Homo sapiens: one gene and its partner. The protein of the gene in region 1 purifies or fractionates together with the protein of each later gene. This does not show direct contact. Each region holds a gene or a part of one and is shown in the gene's direction. Other genes may lie near its edges.

The links.
Region 2: the proteins of GIPC2 (region 1) and SH3BP4 purify together in Homo sapiens (affinity purification with mass spectrometry; 3 studies listed by BioGRID and IntAct, with this or other methods). This does not show direct contact.

Annotation. Positions count from the first base shown.
Region 1 is NC_000001.11:78,041,993-78,048,965, forward strand, and holds the start of GIPC2 (PDZ domain-containing protein GIPC2), read left to right. Parts: upstream 1-3,973; 5' UTR 3,974-4,102; coding exon 4,103-4,342; coding exon of another isoform or gene 4,343-4,492; intron 4,493-6,973.
Region 2 is NC_000002.12:235,044,558-235,053,465, forward strand, and holds part of SH3BP4 (SH3 domain-binding protein 4), read left to right. Parts: intron 1-8,004; coding exon 8,005-8,193; intron 8,194-8,908. UniProt on the Homo sapiens protein: May function in transferrin receptor internalization at the plasma membrane through a cargo-specific control of clathrin-mediated endocytosis.

The DNA of each region.
Region 1 (6,973 bases):
GGCTGGAGTGCAGTGGCATGATCTCAGCTCACTGCAACCTCTGCCTCCCAAGCTCAGGCGATCCTCCCACCTCAGCCTCCTGAATAGCTGGGATTACAGGCATGCACCACCACACCTAGCTGATTTTTTTTTTTTTTTTTTTTGGTATTCTTTTGTAGAGACAGGGTTTCACCACTTTGCCCAGGCTGCTCTCGAACTCCTGGACTCAGGCTATCCTCCCGCCTTGGTCTCCCAAAGTGCTGGGATTACAGGCGTGAGCCACCGTGCTGGGCCTCAGTCCTTAGTCTATATTTGAAAATTTTATTTTATTTTTTATTTTTTTGAGACAGTCTCGCTCCGTTGCCTAGGCTGGAATGCAGTGGTGAGATCTCGGCTCACTGCAACCTCCACCTCCCGTGTTCAAGCGATTCTCATGCCTCATCCTCCAGAGTAGCTGGGACTACAAGCGTGTGCCACCACGCAAGGCTAATTTTTGTATTTTTAGTAGAGACAGGGTTTCGCTATGTTGGCCAGGTCCTGGCCTGCCTCTGCCTCTCAAAGTGCTGGGATTACAGGTGTAAGCCACCACGCCAGGCTTCAGTCCTTAATTTTTAACTGTGTAAAAGAATTCTGAGACCAAAAAGTCTAAGAATCACTTGGTACAGTGATTGCTTATCTATGGAGCGAGAAAGTCTTACTAGGGGAAAAATTAAAAAAAAAAAAAAAAAAAGGGACTTTGGACTTCCAGACACTCGACCCTATCAAATCTTTTGCAGATTCATACTGTTGCCTTCACCAAATGCCACCACTGCCATTCTCCCATGGGGGTCATTGTTGACCCAGTCTTTCCCCCAAAGACCAAGAGGGTCTGGGGTTGAATGATGAGCTTCTTCTTAAATTTGAAGAGCCCAAAGGCTGCTAGGAAGGAAGGGGCTGCAACCTCCCCTAGCAAACACCAAAGATCTATCACCTTACGTCCTATAGCTACTTGTGGACAAAAAATGGAACTTTAAGGTACTGCTAGGAAAAGAATGGCATCAGATCAAGTTTTCCAGATAATGGATTCCAACTCCAGCAAGTGGGATAAGAGGTTCATGACACAAATATATTTGTATTAGGTGAATCAATCACCAGGATACCAAGATCGGTTACTTTCACAAACTGCTCTGAGGCAACTTAAATACGGAAGGAACTTCAGAGCCAGCTCTTCGGCTCCAGGCTCCTTTTTAACTACTTATTGTGGTGTGGAAAATATCAGCTTGCTGAGGATTTATCATCTTAATAGAGAGCTCCTTGGGAAGGAAAAGGGTGAAATTTAAAAAAAGGATCTTCATTAAAGAATAGGGAGTTGATTATGTTGCAGAATCGTATCTTCTTGTTTTGCGACACGTTGGAAACATAAACTTTAGAGCTTTTTCATCTCCACTGCACAGAGGTCTGATTGCTTCTGTTTAAAAATGGGGATCTGCTGATGGATTTCAGCCAGCTTCTTCAGGTCTATGTCTGAATACATGATTGTTTCTTCCTTGAGAGCCCTAGCAGCAAAGGTTCACTACAGTGCTGTGTCCCCAGGCAACATAGGAGGCTTTGTCATCTTGGGCAGGAGAATGTGGCCACATACACCTGATTATCAAGAGCCTGAAGCAATTCCCAGTGGGCTGGTCCAGTGGTCAAACTGAAAGCCCCTGGATAAACCAACAGCTGGCAGCCTTTCCGTGTGTAGATTTGTGCAAGCTCTGCAAACCAGTGTCATAGCAGATGCCCCGACTCATTCTGCAGTAAGGAGTATCAAATGTGGAGAAACTGTTGCCTGGACTCAACATTGTGGATTCTTGAAACGTCATTTTTCCAGGAACACCAGTGTTAAGCAGATGGACCTTTCTGTGCTTTACTAGTAAAGTTCCATGAGGTGCAAACACAGCATAGGTGTTATCTAATTTCCCAGCATCCTCTTCAGGGATGGAACCTCTAGTGAGGTTGTATTCCTTTGCTACTTCAGAAAGCTTCTGTGTGGATTTACCAGGAATTTTCGCTGCATATTCAGGAAAATATTTTGTGCCATATGGAGAATTAAAGCATTCCAACAAAGAAACCATTTTGGCTCCTTGCGTTGCTGTCTCCCGGACAAGGCTACAAGCTCGAGTGTTGTTATCTGATTTGATGAAGAAACTTGAAGCTGGATGAGGGCCAAGTGGAAAGTTGCCCTGGCTCTCCTGGGAAGCAACAGCAGCAGCACTGGCTGAGTGCAGGTGTCCCTGTATTACTTTTCTAAGTCACAGAAACATAAAACAAAAATGTTAAAGTTATCCTAAAGTTTTTTTTTTTTTTTCATCTCGCTCTGTTGCCCAGGCTGGAGTGCAGTGGCACAATCTTGGCTCACTGCAACCTCCGCCTCCCGGGTTCAAGCGATTCTCCTGCCTCAGCCTCCCGAGTAGCTGGAACTACCGGCATGCGCCACCACGCCCGGGTAATTTTTGTATTTTCAGTAGAGACGGGGTTTCACCATGTTGGCCAGGCTAATCTCGAACTCCTGACCTCAGGTGATCCGCCCGCCTCCACCTCCCAAAGTGCTGGGATTACAGGCGTGAGCCACCGCGCCGGCCTCCTAAAGAATTCTTAAGACTCTCCTCCCCCAGTACATCTGCTAACCTTAAGTTGAGAAATATGGATTTTCGGGACTGAATTGATGTGAGAGGTGAGGGAAGAGGAAAAATCCTGATACGACGACTCCACAATGTCTGGTCTGGGAGTGCTTGGTGATCCTATTAACTGAAATCAGGAGTAAAAAAAAGAAAAGATAGATGCAGGAGAAATGATGAGGTCAGTTTTGTTCAGTCTCAATTTGGGTTTCCTACAGTACATTCCCTTTCTGGTAGAATAAGCTGGAGTTGGAGACATTTGGTAGACAACAACGTCTGTGAAACCGAGAATGTTGATGTGACCATACAGGAAGAACATGCAAAGCTAAGTAAGAAGGGAAGTTTGTCGAGGAAAAACTGTCGGTGAATGCAACTCCTGGAGACTAGCAGTTAGCAAGGAGCAGGGTGGGGACGGGGAGAGGAGAGGTAAGGAAGCCAAAAGAGGACAAAATTTAAGAAGAATGAAATGGGCAACGCAGACCAAGTAAGATAAAAACCTAAAAGAATTACTTGTATTTGGTAATTAAGATATGATAGTGATTTCACTCCACTGAAATTGCATAGTAAGTGAAATTTCAGTAGTGTGGGGGCAAAGTCTGATCACAGTGCTTCTAAGAGCAGAGAAGTGAGGAAATTTCGTAGCTAATAATTCAAGACTGTTTTGCTTTGTTGTAAAAAGCGTAGTTGGAGGGGACTGGACTTGAAAACAATGCAATAAACGCGAGGTAGGGAATTGAGGGAACTCACACTTCACACCGAATGGCCTCAATTTTCTTTGTACTATATGAGGCAAGGTCCTCTGTAGAGACTAAGAAGGGCAGAGCTGGGGCAAATGGCTTTGGAGGCGTGCTGAATGTTGGGAGAGGAAGCAGCCCAGGAAATAGGCAAAAGGGAAACTCAGAGGTGCCAAGGACCCGGCTGAGGGGGTTTATGAATACAACGTAGCACCAAGCTCAAGGTTATGTGACTTTCTCTTCCAATTCTGCCCTGCAGAGCGTAAGACGCAGAAAATGCAGACGAAGGTTGACTTCTACTTAAATCCCTATCCCCGAAAGTCCAGACGTACGGACCCGAAGGCCTGTGGCCAAATCATGCGTGGGTGCCTACTACAGATTTATGAAAAGCAGAGAAGGGCCAGCGTGTTTGCCTTCTAAGGCGTATTGTTCTGTAGCGTCGGCATCCTCAGGCGTTCACGTAAATAGAGCCATTTTTTACAAGGAGTAGGGATAAACCTGGTGATAGGATGAGGGACTACGTAACTTTCTTTCTCTCCAGATCCATCCCGGGGGAGGCTGGGCGGGCGGGCGGCTGCTCCGGTCCAGGGGTGGAGGTCGGGGCCCTGACCCGACGCAGCCAGGCGGAAGCGCGGCTGCCATTGGAGGCTGCTTTTACCTGCGCGGGGCCCGGGGCGCAAAGTCCGAGGCGCCGGGGGGAGGAGGCGGCGGACGGCAGCGCAGGTGGGCCCGCGCTCTCGGCCCTGCAAGATGCCCCTGAAGCTGCGGGGGAAGAAGAAGGCCAAGTCCAAGGAGACCGCCGGGCTGGTGGAGGGCGAGCCGACGGGCGCGGGCGGCGGGAGCCTCTCAGCGTCCCGGGCTCCCGCACGCAGGCTGGTCTTCCACGCGCAGCTGGCGCACGGTAGTGCCACGGGCCGAGTGGAGGGCTTCTCCAGCATCCAGGAGCTCTACGCCCAGATCGCGGGCGCGTTTGAAATCTCGCCGTCGGAGGTAAGGCGCCAGGTGCTCAGGCTCTCCCGCCTCTCCGCCGCGCCGCGCCGCGCCGCGCGTATTTCTGTGGGCCCAGGAGGGTTGAGCGGCGTTTCCCGGAGCGCGAAATCCGATGCCGTGTTGAGTCCGCCGGGGGCGTCCCGGGGGAAAGTGAGTGTGCCTTCCCTGGAAGGGAAAATTTAACTTGGCAGGACCGCAGAAAGTCACAGTCCCCCTTGCTCCGAGATCTGGCCTTTGGGAAGCGGGTTGAGGGAGGCAACCTTTCTTCCGCTTGCAAATGTGTTTGCTCCAGATGTCCCGGATTCCGCCGGCCGTTCAAGGCGTGAGCACCTTCCCAGACTCGAGATCTGGCGGGGCAGATTAATACCCTCCACTTCATCTGGACTTTACTCTCCTGTTTCCTCCGCAGGCGTGAGAGTCACGCAGGTCATCTCCCTAGATTAACGGGGGAAAAAAAAAATAGAAGTGCCTTGCAGGTGATACCCAGATTAAGTGGGGGGGAAAACATTGAAGAGCCTTCCAGGTAATACCAAACGGAGGCCCACTTTCCCCCAATCTGTCATTTCTAACATCAGCACCAGAAACCCTTTGGTGGTATTTCCAAGAAGTTTAAAAAGCTGGGCTGTTATTCCAAGAGTGGATAACCTAGAGATTCATACTTAATCACGTGGGACTAGTTAACAAAATTTTCATGAGGAAGATCAGCTCTTTTACATCGTATCCTTAAAAAGGGACTGAAATTTGCTTTAATTAGATTTCATGGGGGCCTGGAACTAAGTTTGACACAGGCATGACCTAAAGCACTAGTTTATGTGAACGTTTATGTGACCACTTTATTTGTGCTAACCCAAGTGAACTGCAAAGGTAGGTGTGAAAAGTTAGCTCAACAAAATATTTTGTCCACATTTCTAGGAAAAGCATATAATTTTGTTGCCCTGGACTCAGAGGAGTGCAGAGAGCTGTCTTTGAGGCCTACAGCGGCACCTGGAGTTCTTTAATTAGTTGTTTATCAGGTCTGTTCAAGGGAAATTGAGGTCAAGGCAAAATTCCAAGAGGAGACGAAAGAGAGCTTAAAGTGTAACCCTTTGTTCTTTCGAAGTTCCCAGGCACTAAGGGGCAAATCGCAAACCCATCTGTGAATTATTTGTATTGATATAGGATACTAATAATACTTCACATTTATATAGGATTTTTTTTTTTTCAAAAAACACTTTCACAGGACACTTTCCTTTGATCTCTAGGGGAGGCAGGTGGCAGGTTAAATACGATAACTTGGACATGGAGCCAGGTTCTACCCTTTACTAGCTGTGTGGACTTGAATGAGTTTAACTTCTCTCAGTTTTCGCCATCTGTAAAATAGAGATTAGAATATTTGTCTTGAAGAGTATTGTGAAGAGTGGAGTCCGTATGTAAACGTATCAGATTGCATAGTTTATGGTTAGGGCTTAATACATGGTAACTAATATGATTAATACCTAACAGTTAAATGAAGGACTGAAGTACAAAGTGATTGGCCCTTAGCCAAGGTCACATACCTAGCAAAAAAAAACTTGACTGTAATTTAAACTTGGATCTTCTGATTCCTAAGCTAGTGAGCTTGTTAGCATACTTAACTGACAACTTTAAATGTCTTTGCTGTAACCAGGGACTTCAGTTTTAGTTACAGATGGTCCTGGGTTTATGATAGTTAGACTTAAGATTTTTGACTTCGCCATGGATTTATTAGGATGTAACTTCCTGGACTTAAGATTTTTCCACTTTATGGGTTTATTGGGGTATTAAATGCATTTTTGACTTATGATATTTTTGACTCACAATGGATTTATTGGGACATAACACCTTGGTAAGTAGAGGAGCATGTGTATTTTGCATTAACACTTCTCATCATTATATATGACATTATTCTGAGCTCAAGGTACATGATTTTATTCAATCTACTTAATCCCTAAGAAGTAAGTATTATTATTAATATCCCCACTTCACAGAGAGGAAACAGACTTTGAGGTTCAGAATTTTTCCAGAATTACACATAGCAAGTGGCAGAGCCTGGATTTGAATTCAGTGTATTCTTTTTTTTTGTTTTCTGTTTTTCTTTTCTTTTTTTTTTAATGAGATGGGGTCTCACTCTGTTGCCCAGGCTGGACTGCAGTGGTGCGATTATAGCTCACTATAGCTTCAAACTCCTAGGCTCAAGCAATCCTCCTGCTTCACCCTCCCAAGTAGCTGGGACTACAGGCATGTGCCACCACATCTGGCTAATTAAAAAAACTTTTTTTTAGAGATGTGGTTTTTCTGTGTTGCTCAGTGTGGTTTGAAACTCCTACTCTCAAGTGATCCTCCTACCTCAGTCTCTTGAATAACACAGACACGGAGCCATTGTGCCCATCTTTTTTTTTTCCTCCCATGAAGCTATATTGTTACCCAAGTTTTCCAGAGTCTCAGCAATAGCTTGGTAGCCACGTTCAACATTTTCAGTGCACTGACTTGCAAGGTCAGTTTCCAAGATAATATACACGAGTTGTTTTCATGTGTTAGATCAAAGTTTATAACATTTTATAACCCGGGTATATGGGTAAAACCCCAGTTTTACCATGTTTATGCATATAACCAACATTAATGCAAGTTTTCCAT
Region 2 (8,908 bases), on another chromosome or scaffold:
GGCGTGTGCCGCTCTTCCTCGTTCCTCTGAGCCCGCAGGCTTTCTTGCATCCTAGCTTCTGAGAGGCGTGCTTCTTGGTGCCCGGCCTTTCTGCCACCTCCCCGGCTCCCCTGGATTGAGCCCTGTTTGTCTGGGAGAGCCCAGAGTGTCCTGTAGACACAGGTGTGCAGGCAAGGGTCACATGTGGCACATACCCGGCTCGGCTGCCCATGTTGAGCCAGGAGACAGAAGGGACGCAGCCCGGCAGGAGTGGGGCAGGAGTCGGGTGAGACCCTCTCTGGGTGGCCTGCAGTCGTGTGCAGTGCCAGAAGCATGGAGCCACGAGATTGCCCAGGGGAGGGAGATGGAACTGGAAGCGGCCGTCAGGGGGGCCACCTTGGCAACCAGGAAATCACTGCACTTGGGTGGGGAGGAAGCGAACAAACGCAGCAGGGAAGCCTCCGGGCCCCCATGTGGGGTCACCTGCAGGGAGGGGATGGCCTGCGTCCCTCCCATCAGCCATCACCCATGTGTGATTCAGAGCACACCTCCTGGCTCTCCAGAACCTGGTGCCGGGCCGTGGCCTGGTCTCCTCACGGGTGCACCCAGCACAGTGGCAGACAAAGCGCCTCCATCCCGTGAGAGCCTCTGTGCGGGCGGCCCCGAGACCACAGCCGTGGCTGTGCATGCTGTCGTGGAACCTGACAGCATTGCTGAGCCCAGGACACTCACCTCGACGTTGCACCAGAGGTGGAAAAATGACACAACCAGGAGTACCACACCAGCTGTGGAAAATAACCGCCGAGTAGGTGGCTTTTACACTCATTTTCCTGCTTTTTTATCTTTTTCCAAAAGACATAAATGATCAAACTCTCTCAATTCGATTGGTGAGCATCTCTGGGAGGGGATTTTTTGGTGGGCCTCCCTGTCCGCTCCAGGGAGGGGTGTGTCCTCTGTGCCCGAGTCCTTCCGCTACCCAGAAAGGAGGAAGTGAAACTTGCCCTTGGCCAGGTCGGCTCCCTGAGGCAAGGTTAGATTTTGTGGTGATAAAGTGAAACTGGTTTTGCAGTGTCCCCACCCGCCCCCCACACCTGTGTCAGTCATCATCTTGGCCAAACTTATAGAAACCACAGACGGATTTCTCCCAGGTCGTTTATTAGGAGACCCTGAAAACTGGCTGTTCTATTCCGCTTGTCATCACAGGGCTGCCACGATTTCTGCGGCCTCTGCCACCGCTTTACCTGCCCCTCCCAGAGAGTCACAGCCAGGCCACCCCCTGCCTCTCATTTTTAGCATAGCTTTCGGTGTCCTTGTTCTGATGCCTTGGGTTGGAAACAGTGTTTAAATGATGGGGAAAATGTGAGAGTTTGAGACAGTCAGTGTGCAGGGAGATGGGAAGGAAAAAGGAGTCAAATGAGACCTGGGTTGTTCCTCTCTCCACTGCCTTTAGAACGGGGTCAGCCTTTGCCCCTGCCCCACAAAGTCGTGTAAGATCTGGCCCTACCCATCCCAACCCTGGGGGCCACTGTGCTCTGTGCACCCCTGCCCTGAACACACCCAGCTCGCCCGGCCTCCAGCTCCTGCAGATGCTATGCTGTTCCTCTTCCTGGAGCTCCCTTTCCCAGACCTCCTCATCTCCCTCAGCTGCCAGCTCAAATGCCGTCTCTCCAGGACGTCCTTCTCTGCAGCCCCGCGCACTCCATCATCCTCTGTCTCCATGGTGTTTCTTGAATCAGAAGCGGTTTGTTTTGGCCAGGCATGGAGGTTCACACCTGTAATACCAGCACTTTGGGAGGCTGAGACAGGAGAATCGCTTGAGCCCGGGAATTCAAGACCAGCCTGAGCAACATAGTGAGGCTTCATCTCTCCAATTTTTTTTTTTTAAATCAGCCAGGTGTGTTGGTGTGCACCTGTAGTCCCAGCTACTTGGGAGGCTGAGGTGGGAGGATCACTTGAGCCCAGGAGGTCGAGGCTACACTGAGCTATGATCGCAGCACTGCACTCCAGCCTGGACAACAGAGTGAAACCCTGTCTTGAAAATAAAGGAAGAGAAGAAAAGAAACAAGTTTGTTTATGTTCTTGTGCACTTGTTTCTCATTATTACTCTAACTGAACATAGGTCCCATGAGAGGAAGGGCCCCGGCACATAAGAATCACTGAGGTACTAGATGGATAAGTGATTGAATGAATGAATGATGGATGAATGAATGAATGATGAATGAATGAATGAATGAATGCAGGCCTTGGGCTGGGCTAAGAATCCAAGCGGGAGGCATTCTCACGTGGCCATACCATGCTTCTGTTCTGTGGTTCCATTTCCTCTTTCCATTCTTTTTGTGCCTGTTTTTGATAGAGTCCGTGTGTGAGGCATCCCCGTACCTCTGCCTGCCCCTTCCCAGCAGCATGGCTGTGGCTGCACTCAGAGCACCCCTCTGTCCTGGCCACTTCTCTCCCACCAGAGCCTCTGTCCGTGATGGTGTCAGCTGAAGAATGACAAGGTTTGTTCATTTGGAAAGGAGAGCCTCATTCCTCATAAAGGGTTGCAGCCTGTGGGTGGCTATTCTGACAGGTTGGGAAGCAGAGCCTCCTGCCAGAAGCCAAAAACAGACACTTCAAGGGAGGGGCAAAGGCAACAAGAATTTATGGATATTGGTGGCCAAATATACATATTCAATAAGCCGTAGGGGGAGTCATGAGTATTTATGAAAGGAGAAATGTGCACATTCACATTTAAGCCTTGTGCTCCTTCAGGGGTCCCATGTACAAAAAATGGTGGCAGTGGCATGATTCAAGGGTAGGGTTTTCTTTCAGCCCCCTGATGCGTCAGAGGCGAAGCAGGGGACATGAAACCCTCGCTGTGCATCCTCTGTAGACTGGCCAGAAACACTGCGTGGTCGGTGGGCTCCCGTCAGGCAAAGAGGAGGGGCAGCGTCTGGCAGTGGTAGAGGCCTTTGAAAGGGAACCCAGCTTTTTAAGAATCAGAAAAGTCATTCAGCAGCGCCCTTTTGATGCAAGAGACTATTCCCAATTCTCGGGATACTGTCAGCACTCGGCACATGGTCTCTGTTATGGTGGGGAAGGAAGGGGAGTCAGCTGGAGATAGCCGTGGGCAGTGGCCATCAGCCATGGGAGCAGAAGCAGCCCACGGTGGCCTCAGGCCCAGGGAGAACTTCCTAAGGGGCCAGAGTGAGCTGTCACAACTGGTCCTGGATCCACCATAAGAACGAAGCCGTGGGGTGTGGTGACCTGGAGCCGTCGGTGATGGCTGTAGCAGGGGCGTTTTGGTCAAGTTGCGGGAGGTAGGGAAATAGGCGTGTCGGGCTCTGTAGAGAAGTTTCTATGAGAAAGGGAAGGAGTTGCTGTGGGATGCAAAGCAAGGGAGGGTGGTTGTTTTGGGAGTGGAGTGGGGGCCGGAATAAACCCAAAGAGACTTGAAAACTAACAGAAATAAGGAAGCTAGCAAGTGCATGGGGCGCATTGGGGCGGGAAAGACTGGTGTGGTGTGAAGGGACTCTCTGTGGATTGGGAGAAGACCCACTTTAACCTCCAGAAGAGGAGGAGTTGATGGACAGTGTGCATTGGATGGGGTCCTGAGGGATTCCTCCCAGGCAGCCCCAAAGCCAGAGCCTGTGGCTGTTAATGTGGGAGAGGGAAGGAGGATGGGCCCATTGTCCAGATGCCATGTGCAGAAGGCTTCCCCTCGAGTTTTGGGGCATGTTGGGAAGGAAGCAGGATGGAATAAACATGCAGCAAAAAAGCCTAAATTGTATTTCTTTGTACTTTATAAGAGTATTTTCCCCCGCCCCTTTTTTGAGAAAAGGTCTCGCTCTGTCTCCTAGGCGGGAGTGCAGTGGTGTGATCACAGCTCACTGCAGCCTCGAACTCCTGGGCTCAAGCAGTCCTCCCACCTCAGCCTCCCAAGTAGCTGGGACTACAAGCAGGTGCCACCACACCCAGCTAATTTTTTTTTTTTTTTGTCTGTAGTAGAGACAAGGTTTGATTGTGTTGCCCAGGCCGGTGTGGAACTCATTGAGCTCAAGCTATCCTCCCACCTCAGCCTACCAAAATGCTGGTATTATAGGGGTGAGCCACCATGGCTGGACAAGAATATCTCTTGAAGCAAGTTCCCAGACTCTGGCCGCCAGGCCCGCTATTCCTGTCAATGGCGTTTTGTTGGAACTCAGCCACACCCATTCCCATCTGCATCGTCTGTGGCTTTCAGGCTTCGTGTGTCCCACAAAGGCAAAAGTACTATCTGTCCCTTTATAAAGTTCAGTCACCCTGACTGAAATCATGGTGTACTCACTGTAACAAAATTCCAGTTGAAACCAGGGTAGTGCAGCAGTCCATCGAGTGTTTCCTGGTGTACCTGTGTGCCCATAAAAAGAGGAAGCTGCAAGGATCAAGTTCATAGAGCTAGAGCCTCCTGCTGTGAAATTTTTCTATTGCTAAGAATTGGTTGGCACCCAAAATTTGTCCTTTAAAAATATGCATCAGTTATGCCTTGTTGATGGTGTGGGTGGTTTGTAACAAACTAAACCAGGGCTGGGCTCAGTAAAAGTTGTGTAAGTGAGTGAGGGAGAGATGCCTTCATTCTTGGTGTTGGAAGTGCCGACCTCTCCTTTCATCTGGGATCCATGGAAATGGGACCTTGGCTGCCCCTGGATGGAGTCCAGGCGCTCTCCTTCCCAGGGGCCAGAGAACACCTGTGTTTCCCAGGACCTTGGGGACCTGTGCCCAGTTCCCCTGGGGAGAGAGCGGTTTTGATCACTCGCACCAGGAATGACTCGAGTCAGAAGCAGGTGACTTTGACCTGTTCTGTTACCTAGAAAATGAGGCCACTTTGGAGCCAGGCAGCTGTGCACACAGCCAGATTAGCTTGGTGTGTGCTGAGTAGCCACGAAAGAGCTGAGTTGGGGACATTGAGTGACTTCGTGTCAAACCCTGTGGTGGTCCAGCACACCTTCCCAGGACCACAGACGAGGCTGCCACCACAGCAAGAAAATTAGGATCTGACAGCCTACCAGCTAACTACACACCCTCCTGACACGTGAATACACACGTGTATGCTTTTATCTTCTGAAACAAATCTAGTCAACATTTAATTTTTTAAAACAATTTGTTTTGAATATATCCAAATTCAAATAGAAACAGACCTTCTTCTGAAATATATAAATAGTTGATATGAAGCATAATCCAGACCGGTATTACATTTGGTTCAATTCCCAATTCCATGTGGGGCTCATGGAATTGGGAAGGCCGCTGGCCGAGTGCTGAGAAGTTTGCATATTTGCCTCCACGCCTGTCACTTCCAGCTGTGGGACCCGGGACAAGCCTGGGGTCTGCAGGCTTCCTGTGCTTATCTGTAGAACAGATGCCTTGCGGCCCACACAGCAGGGAGGACCTGGGGTTGGGTGCCCAGAGGCAGCTCTGGCTCTGGCATTTCTCGGTGTGAAACCCACTTCCCCTCTCTCAGCTTCTTCTGTAAAGTGGGTTGAACTCAGCCTCTGCTTCATGGGGGGCTCTGGGGAGCGGAGGAGCTGAGTGTCTGGCTCACAGCAAGCCCTGGGTTTCTTTTTTTTTCTTTTCTTTTTTTTGAGACGGAGTCTCGCTCTGTCCCCTAGGCTGGAGTGCAGTGGCGCGATCTCAGCTCACTACAAGCTCCGCCTCCCGGGTTCACGCCATTCTCCTGCCTCAGCCTCCTGAGTAGCTGGGACTACAGGTGCCCGCCACCACACCCGGCTAATTTTTTTTGTACTTTTAGTAGAGACAGGGTTTCACTGTGTTAGCCAGGATGGTCTCGATCTCCTGACCTCGTGATCCACCTGCCTCAGCCTCCCAAAGTGCTGGGATTACAGGCGTGAGCCACCGCTCCTGGCCTAGCCCTGGGTTTCTAGTAGCTTCTACAAAAACAAACGGCCACCAGGTCCTCAAACCCCCTTCTGGCCAGCCTCGTTGGTAGCCAGCTGTCAGCCTCTCATATCTAGGGAGGCATCAGAATGATCTGTCGCTCCTGGTTCTTTTTAAATTCCATGGATTGAGATGCTGGGGGCCCACCTAGAAGGATCGTGAGTCACCTACTCTGGCTAATGCATGCCACAAGTCGCCAAAAAGGTCACCTTTTTGTATTGTTAGACTCCCCCCAGGTAAACATAAAGTGTACATTAGAATGCTCAGTCTAAAACAGCTGGGCTCGCTTTGAAGTAAGCAGCCCAGCCGACCGCATGAGCACTAGCAAGACGACCCTGCTATCGGCACAAAATAGTTGGCCAAAGAGCGCCGGTACCAGCGGTGTGGTTGGCGGGGGTGGGGGGTTGTTTGTTTTTTAGCACACTTTGGAGTCCTAAAATGACAACCTCAGGTGCTGAAACAGAGCGTAGAGAGAAAGAACGCCAGGACTGGTGACTTTCCTCTTCTCTTAGCAACTCGCCTGTCCAGGGGCTCACGGGAGCCTCAGAAACCGTCTCTGGGCTGCCTCAGGCCACTGTGCCCTGGAAGCCAAGCCTTTCCCATTGTTGGATGAGAGAAAGCTTTAAGGGTGGGGGTGAGCTGTGCCTTCTATGGCAGAGGAGACTCAGACAAGAATCAGACCCAGCATGCGGCTCTCCTGCCTTCCTGGTGACGTCATCCTGACTGGCTCAGAGCCACACGCTAACCATGTGTGGCCTCATTTATAATTAGGATGGCGCCAGAGTCGCTTGCATGACACCCAGTGGCAGTCATGTGACTTGGCACAGTGTACAGGACTAGCAGGCCTGCTGTCTTGTGCTAGCCAATTTGATTTGTTTCTTTAAACCAGAAGTGTGAGTTTGACCCCAGCCTGGGGTCCCCCAGATATATTAGCCATATGTTCAATGCCTGTCCCATCCAGCCCCCGTTTTTAGGAGGGAATTGAGTCCCAAGGCGGCCACGTGGTTGTTCCAGCCTCAGCTGGGACTTCACTGTCCCAGCAGGGCTGTCTGTCCTATTACCTCCCCTCTGACTTCCTCTGTGGTTAGTAATCCCTGTCCTAAAGACACAGTAGAAAGTTCTTGCAGCTTTGACGTGGGAGCAGTCCCACCAATTGTGGAAACCGTTTTCTCATGTTGCACAGTCCTGGGGGAGGTCTGTGCATCTCCTGGTCACCGTGGTTCTTGGTGGTACACCCTGTCTCTGACCAGGGCCTCTTCTGTTCTCTGTCTTCTTCTCCCTGGGTGGTCCCTGCCTGAGTCCCCCAGCCTTCTACCCGCGGTGCTCTCTAACTGGCCAATGTCAGCACCGCACACTCAGCAGGTCCAGCTCGCCCTCCATCCGTCTCGGCCTCAGGCTATGGTGTCTATTTGGTGAAATGCATTCGTTTCTCTCTGGTGTCCCCAGAGAGTGGGAGTGGTGACAACTCTAATCCATATTCACCCTGTCTGTTAGCTTCCTGGGGCTGCCAAGACAAATGACCACAAACCAAGGGACATCAAACAACAGACACCTGTCCTGTCACCATTCAGGAGGCCACAGGTCTCAGTCAGGGGTCCCAGGGTGGCCTCCGTCTGGAAGCAGTGGGGGAGAAGGGGTTGCAGGCCTGCCTCTCCTAAGCCCCACTGGCTCAACCCTCCTTCTTTTCCTTGGCTTGTTGCCGCATCTGTCCCGTCTCTGCCTCCGTCTTCACACGGCCTTCTTCTCTCTGCCTCTCTGTCTGCTTTCTCTTCTTATGAAGACGCCAGTCCTTGGTGACTTCCTCTAATCCAGAGGGACCTCATCTTAATTCTATCTGCAAAGACCCCATTTTCAAGTAAGGTCACGTTCTGAGGTTCTGGGTGGATGTGGGCTTTGGAGGGAGACACTGGTGAACCTGGCACGCTCTGCACATCATCTCTTTTCTCCCGTGAATCCTGGCAGTGATCGATTTCAGGGGACATTTGGTAGTAGGCCAGGGAACATGGAGAATAGAGAGCCCATGGCCATTCCTGCGCCGTCTGCTGGAATTCTGCGGGGAGCAGAGCCTGCCCCACTCCCTACACTGTCTCACGCTGTGTGCCTCTTCCTCTGCAGGCCCTACTGAAGATGGACTGCCAGGGCCTGGTGGTCAGACTCATCCAGGACTTTGTGCTCCTGACCACGGCTGTAGAGGTGGCCCAGCGCTGGCGGGAGCTGGCTGAGAAGCTGGCCAAGGTCTCCAAGCAGCAGATGGACGCCTACGAGTCTCCCCACCGGGACAGGAACGGGGTTGTGGACAGCGAGGTGAGCAGCGGCTGAGCTTCGAGCTCACCGAGCCCCTCTGTCCCTGGGTTCCGTGGACCCATGCAGTGCAGCCATAAAAAGTCTTGCCTCGCGGCATTTCTGTGAGGGTGCAACAGGTGGAAATGTGCACGCATGTGCCCAGCACTGGGTGTGCCTCACTGAGTGGGAGCCATCCTCCGGATTGGTTGTCGTGAGCCCTGGCTTTAGGATGTCAAGGCTGTTCCACACGACATGGGAAGGACAAACAGAACTGCCTGTCCCTTGTTCATTTTGATCTTAAATTACCATCCGTAGGGTTGAATAATGCAATAACACATACACAGAGGACTTTGTGAGCCGCTCTGGACTGGAGTGATACCTGGTATGTTACATAACTTGGGCCAAAGCCGGTGTGGCCGGGCTCTTGCTCAGAGGTCCTTTGTGTTCTCGCATGTTTGTGGAGGGCACCCTAGTAAGCTTCCTGGAAGACGGTTCAGGCTTGCAAGATCCAGGAAGCAGGAAGTCCCAAGGACAAAGCTGTCTTTTATGAATGGGATGAATTTCCAAACAAATGGCACAGAGAGAAAGTGCCATAAAGATTGTAAGGAAAGAGAAGTCCTTTCTGTTTATTCATTTGTTGCGCACCTACTCTTGCACAAAGCCCTGCTTTTCCCTCTGGAATGTGCTGACCCTGGCCCCGAGATGGTTCCACTGTTTCTTCTGTGGGCTTGTCTCA